Linked DNA regions of Homo sapiens. The protein of the gene in region 2 interacts with the protein of the main gene of each other region in a pairwise test. Each region holds a gene or a part of one and is shown on either strand. Other genes may lie near its edges.

The links.
Region 1: the proteins of FURIN (region 2) and MARCHF1 interact in a protein complementation assay, tested with the Homo sapiens proteins (2 studies listed by BioGRID).

The regions. Positions count from the first base shown.
Region 1 is NC_000004.12:163,530,495-163,534,151, forward strand, and holds part of MARCHF1 (E3 ubiquitin-protein ligase MARCHF1), read right to left. Parts: intron 1-3,657. UniProt on the Homo sapiens protein: E3 ubiquitin-protein ligase that mediates ubiquitination of TFRC, CD86, FAS and MHC class II proteins, such as HLA-DR alpha and beta, and promotes their subsequent endocytosis and sorting to lysosomes via multivesicular bodies.
Region 2 is NC_000015.10:90,878,517-90,881,358, reverse strand, and holds part of FURIN (furin isoform 1 preproprotein), read right to left. Parts: intron 2,596-2,842; coding exon 2,383-2,595; intron 1,916-2,382; coding exon 1,815-1,915; intron 1,689-1,814; coding exon 1,585-1,688; intron 1,493-1,584; coding exon 1,375-1,492; intron 1,266-1,374; coding exon 1,086-1,265; intron 669-1,085; coding exon 544-668; intron 430-543; coding exon 319-429; intron 74-318; coding exon 1-73. UniProt on the Homo sapiens protein: Ubiquitous endoprotease within constitutive secretory pathways capable of cleavage at the RX(K/R)R consensus motif. Mediates processing of TGFB1, an essential step in TGF-beta-1 activation.

The DNA of each region.
Region 1 (3,657 bases), on a different chromosome or scaffold from region 2:
TCAAGTAAACTCTTTTTCTTTTCAAAATGCTTTGGCTCTGACTCTTCCTTTGAAATTTTTGGGGAAAAAATGTTCTCTGATCTTAAAAGGGATTGTAAGAAAACATGAAAAGCCTCTCACTGTTGTTGATGTTTCATTAATTTGTTGCTCTGTTTGGCACTGTCAATTTAAAATAAATTTCTATGCCTCTTTCAGCAATCAAATCTGAACTTAGTTTTTGAGTAGATTAAATATATGCAATCAAATTTATTAGAACCTTTACCGGTAGCAAAGGTAAATTTTTTCTAACTAACTCCTAATACGCAAGGACTTCTTTATGACTTGAATAATTCATAGTAGTCATCATCTTGAATATTTACTTAATCCTAATGGAAATAATACTTCAAAATATCATTGGCCAAAGCTCACACAGGAGAAATAAGAGATCATTACAGTGGCAGGTGTAATTAATAGGCAGATAATTAAATATCCCTAGATCTATTAAAGAAATTAAATCAACCATAACCTTTCAGAGCAGAAAGCACCAAGCTCAAATAGTTTTACTAGTGGATTCTACCAAACATTTAAAGAAGAAATGACATCAATGTTCTACAGTCTTTTCCAGAAAATAGAAGAGATAATACTTCCTAACTAATCGGGTGAGACTAGCATTACCCAATACTAAATTCGGCAAAGACAATTACTATGAAGAAAAGTTATAGGCCAGTATCTCTCATGAGCAGATACAAAAATTCTCAACAAAATATTAGCAAATTGAATTCAACAATGTATAAAAACAGTTACACACTACAGCCAATAGAGATTTATTCTAGGTATGCAAAGTTGGTTCAAGTTTCAGAAATCAATGTAATCACATCAATTAGCTAAAGAAAAATGTGAATATATCAATAAGTGCAGAAAACACATTTGACAAAATACGACGCTCAATCATGATAAAAACTAGGAACGGAAGGGAATTTCCTTAATGCGATAAAGAACATAGAAAACCTATAGCTGACATAATGGTAAGAAACTAGATGCTTTCCCCCTAAGATCAGGAACAAGACAAGGATGTTCCTTCTTACCATGCCTATTCCGCATCACACTGGAAGTCTTAGCTAATGCAATAAAACAAGAATAATAAAAGATGATTGAGAAAGAATAAATAAAACTATCTTTGTTCACAAATGATATGATTATGTATAAAATCTCAAAGAACTGATTAAGTTTTTTTTTTAAATAGGTGATTATGACAATGTTGCAGGATACAAAGTTTTACAAAAAGTCAATTGCTTTCCTATATATAGCAGTGAACAACCAGAATTTGAAATTAAAAACATAAGCCCATTTACATTTGTGCCAACAAAACAAAAACAATGACAACAACAAAAACCTTAGGTGTAAACCTAACAAAATATGTACAAGATTTATGTGAGAAAAACTATGAAGCTATGATGAAGGAAATAAAAGAATATCTGAATGAAATAAGATGTTCCACATTTATGGATAGGGAGACTTAATATTATATTATTAAGATATCTATTCTTCCCAGTTTGATCTACAGATTCAATACTATCCCATTCAGAATTCCAGCAAGTTATTTTATGGATATTGACAAACTGATTCTAAAGTGTATATGGAGAGCAAAAGACCAGAATAGCCAACACAATATTGAAGTGGAAGAATAAAGTTTTTGAAAACTGACACTATCCTTGATTACTACCACTACGGTGATCAAGACAGTGTGGTATCAATGAAAGAATAAAGAAATAAATCATTGAAACAGAATAGCCCAGAAATAGACTGATACAAATATAGGAAACTGATCTTTAACAAAGGAGCAAAGGCAATTCAATGGAGAAGGGATAGTCTTTTTAACAAATGGGTGCTGGTATAACAATATCTGCATGCGAATAAATGAGTCTGTAAACAGACCTTAAATTTTTCACAAAAATTAACTCAAAATGGATTATAGAACTAAATGTAAACTGTGAAACTATACAGCTTCTAAAAGATAAGAAAATTCAGGTGACCAAAGTATGATCTATGAAAAGAAAAATGGATCAATTGGACTTTATTAAAACTAAAACCTTTTGCTCTGAGGAAGTCACTGTTAAGAGAATGAAAAGCCACAGGAAAAAATATTTGCAAAACATATTCTGAAAAAGGGATTTGTATCCAAAATATACAAAGATCTGTTAACATTCAATGATAAGAAAATAACCTAATTACAAAATGAGCAAAAGATTTGAACAGATATGTCATCAATGAAGATAAACAGATGGTAAGATTATTAATATATGTGATTAGAGAATTGCACATTAAAACAAGATATCATTATATACCTATTAGAATGGCTAAAGTTTTAAAAAAGAACACTGAAAACACTGAACGTTGGAAAGGATGTGGAACGACAAGCAGGAATTCTCATTCATTGCTGATAGGTATGCAAAATGGTACAGTCACTTTGGAAGACAGTCTGGCAGTTTTTTACAATGGTAACCACAGCTTTTCAAATGATACAACATTATACTTATTCAAATGAACAAAAACTTACGTCCACACAAAAACCTGCACACAAATGTTTGTAGCAGCTTTATTCATATATTTGTTCAAAGCTGGAAATACCAAGTGGTTTTTCAATCTGTGAATGAATAAACTGTGATACATCCATGTAATGGAGTATTATTTAGTGATTAAAAAGAAATGAGCTATCAAGCTACAAAAGGACACGAAGAAACCTTAAATGTATATTGCTAAATAAAAGAGGTCAGTCTGAAAAAGCTACATACTGCGTGATTCCAACTATGTGACATTCTAGAAAAGGCAAAACTGGAGATAGTAGGATCAGTGTTTGCCAACAGTTTAGGAGGAGAAAGGAAGGGATGAATAGGTGGAACACAGGGACTTTTTAAGGCGGCAACACCATTCTGTATGATTCTGTAACGGTGGACACAGGACGTTACACGTTTGTCAAAACTCATAGAACTGTACAACACAAAGAGTGAGCCCCAATGTAACTATGAACTTTAATAATGTAAGAATATTGGCTCCTCAGTGGTAACAAATGTACCACGTTGAGGCAAGATGTTAATAACAGGAGAAACCTTGTGTATGTGCAGGGTGGTATGTGGGAACTCTCTCTTTACCTTCTTTGTAATTTTTCTGTTAACCTAAATCTGCTCCAAAAATAGTCTTTTATATATAATATATATATATATATTTATATATATTAGCTCCTTACTTGAGAGATTAGTTCCATGAATTCATCACTGTGTCTAGGTCAGTTTATAGAATTTCTTCGAGTAAGAGATGGGTTTGTGAGCATTTAGGTATTTGGAAATTGGTAATGTATGCATGATATATTTATGGAAACTATTGCACAAAAACACTCCATTTCTTTTTAGCCATGCCCAATGGAGTTTATTGTGCCTAAAATTTGCTGCAGTCTTGCACAATAAATGCTCATGATCTATACCTCTATTTATTTTATCGTCATCCTCAGCTGCCTGATTTCTCTCATCCAGTGCCTTTCTTAGTAAACTTTATCCAAAGTCCTATCTGGGTAGCTGTTTTCCAAACATTGCACATCCTAATATAGGTTTAAGCTTTAGCACATGCTATTCCTCTGTTTAGAGTGCCGCGCTCTTTACAATAAACTTCTACTAATCTTTCAGA
Region 2 (2,842 bases):
ACTTGGGGGGCGAACCCTGGAGGGCAGTGCTGGACACAGCTCTTCTGGTGCAGGGAGAAGCCTTCCTCGCACACTGCCGGCGTGGGAGAGAGGGCAAGTGTGTGTCAGCTAAACAGACTGTAGCCCCAGGACCACAGCAGCCCCAAGCCAAGTCACCACATCCCCAGGATCCTCCAGCCCCAGGACTGTGGTCATCCCAAGAGCCCCAGGGGCCCTAGGTCTCTTGAGACTTTTTTCTGTTAGAGCTGGGCTTCAGGACAGGCACCCGCCTTACCCCCAGACTCAGGCCCCCAAAGCCCAACAGCACCCACTACTGACCCACACAGGCCTGACTGGACGTGAGGGTCTTGCAGCCACTGCTTTCTGGAGGTACGGGCAGCCCCTCAGGGGCGGTGCCATAGAGTACGAGGGTGAACTTGGTCAGCGTCCCTGTTCCAGAGCGGGGAGGAGGCAAGAGTTAAGACAGTGCTGGCACCACACCCAGTGCTCGAGATCCTGCCAGCCCTCCACCTCGTACCCCTACCCCTCAAGTGCCCCCAGTACCATAGTTGTTGGCTTCGCTGGTGTTTTCAATCTCTAGGACCCACTCGCCAGAGGGATCCTCATCCCAGGAATGAGTTGTCATGAAGGCCCAGTCATTAAACCCATCTGCGGAGTAGTCATGTGGCCTGGGGAGGGGAGTGCACACAGCCCTGAGGCCTCTGCGGGACCCCAAGCCAGGGACATCTAACCCACAGCACATGGGCCACACACCCTTCCCCCACGCAGACCAACCCCATGGGGCCAGAAGTGCCTGCTGGCTTGGCTGTTTCTCAGTGAGCCAGACGTGCTCAACTGGGGGATTCTAGAAAGGTACACAGGCACCGCACAAGGTGGGGCACACTACTGACATTAAATGGTTGCAAGCCAGGGATTCCTGCAACATGGGACAGTCCCACAGGACAAAATTGTCCCTCCCAAAATGCCAAGAGTGCCCCACTGAGTAGCACTCAGTGCCCCCTGGGCCGTGTGAGCGAGCAAAGGCAAGCACGCGGGCTGTGAGAGGCGGCGGCGCTGGGCAGGGCGGGCAGGGACAGAGCAAGCACCTGGCTGCCAGCAGGGTGGAGCGGGTGCCCATGGGGCTGACCAGGTGGATGGCCAGGTCGCCACGGCGATTATAGGACAGGGTGAGCCGCGCCTGAGCGTGCTCCAGCCGAGTGATGTGGTTGGGCTCGCCCAGGCACGCGGTCACGGTCTTCCGCACCTCGAGCCGTTTCCCGATGTCTCTGTGCAGGAGAGCACCATGATGGTCAGCCTGGCCCAGAGGGACCAGCGGGCACCCCCTGCGACTCTCAGGTCCCACTGGCCCCCTCCCAGCCTGGGTCCAGCCCTCACTTGGGCTCGGTGAGGATGTCGATGATGCACTTCCGCTGGGGGGCCACTGTGGTCCAATTCTGGGCCAGGGCCACCATGGCGCCTGCGTCCAAAAGCCCGTAGCCATATGAGTGGCTCACTGTGGGGACAGGGAAGGTAGGGTCAGCTGTCAGGCACAGAGTGCCTTCTACCTAACTCCACATCCAGCCTGCCGGGCCAGCCTGCCCTCACCTTTCCGGCCCACACCATTGGTGGCCCAGTCGTTGGCATTGAGGTGGGCTGGCTTCGAGGTCTGTACCACCAGGTGTTGCATGTCCCGCCATGTGAGGTTCTTACTGCAAAGAAGGAAGGGAGAGGCTGGGGATCAGTCTTTTTTGGGAGCAGCTCTCCAGCTGCCCTAAGGGCTGCCCTACAGAGAGTGCTGGTAGGGACAGGGTTGCCGCTGGCCCCCACCCACTTACTTGGCCTCCAGGGTGAGAGCAATGATGCCGGCTGCTAAGGGGGCAGAGGCTGAGGTGCCCGTGTGAGACTCCGTGCACTTCTGCCGCAAGTCAGTCGTCACCTGCCAGGAAGAGAATCATATTGGGGCCTGTGATGGGTGGAGGGGGCTAGAGGAGCCACCTGCCTACCCTCCCTCTGCATACAGGCCCTGGGCACCACAGATGGTATGGGGAGCCAGGGCCAAGAACCCCAGGTCCCAGCTGCTGCCTTGCTAACTTGCCGTGGACATGCTAATGACGAGCCCCTCCTGGGCCTCATTTTCCAAAGGAATAAGGGGGTTCAACTAGAGGGTGGAGATGAATAAGAACAAAGTATGTTTTTAGAGAGAGTCTAGGCTTTTCAAAGTCTTCAGAGATGGCTCCATGGCCTCCAAGAACCTACAGAGCCCCAGAGTTCATGTTGCATGATGCCTGAGCCACTATCACCCAGCCACATGGGGGTGGAGGCAGACAGCCTCCAAAAGAGGGTGCTGGACAGAGCCAGCCAGCAGCCCCATCTCCCCAGCCCCCACCCCCAGGTAAGACTCACGATCTGCTTCTCATTCTGGTTGCCACTGCTGTAGGTCGTGGCCAGTGTGGACGAGCAGGCCTCGCTGTACCACGGCACGTTGCCAAACTGCGTGGCGCTGCTGATGGACAGCGTGTAGATACTGTTGGTGTAGCCGTCGCAGTTGCAGCTGTCATGTTCCCGGCCCCCGTTCCCCGAGGCCCAGACAAAGATGGAGCCCAGCCCCCCTCGGCCCTGTGGACAGAGTGGGCTGGGGTCATTCAAGATTGGGACTTGAGGGAGGGCTGGCAGGAGGACACTGCTGGAAAACTGGGAAGGCTGGAGCCTCATTCTCTGGGAACCTCCTGTCCCCTGTGAGATCCCTGGTGGATCAAGTATGTATCCAAATATGTCTATCTAGGCACACAAAAAATCAGACCAAGAGGCCAAGGCGGGAGGATCGCTTGAGGCCAGGAGTTTGAGACCAGCCTGGGTAACACAG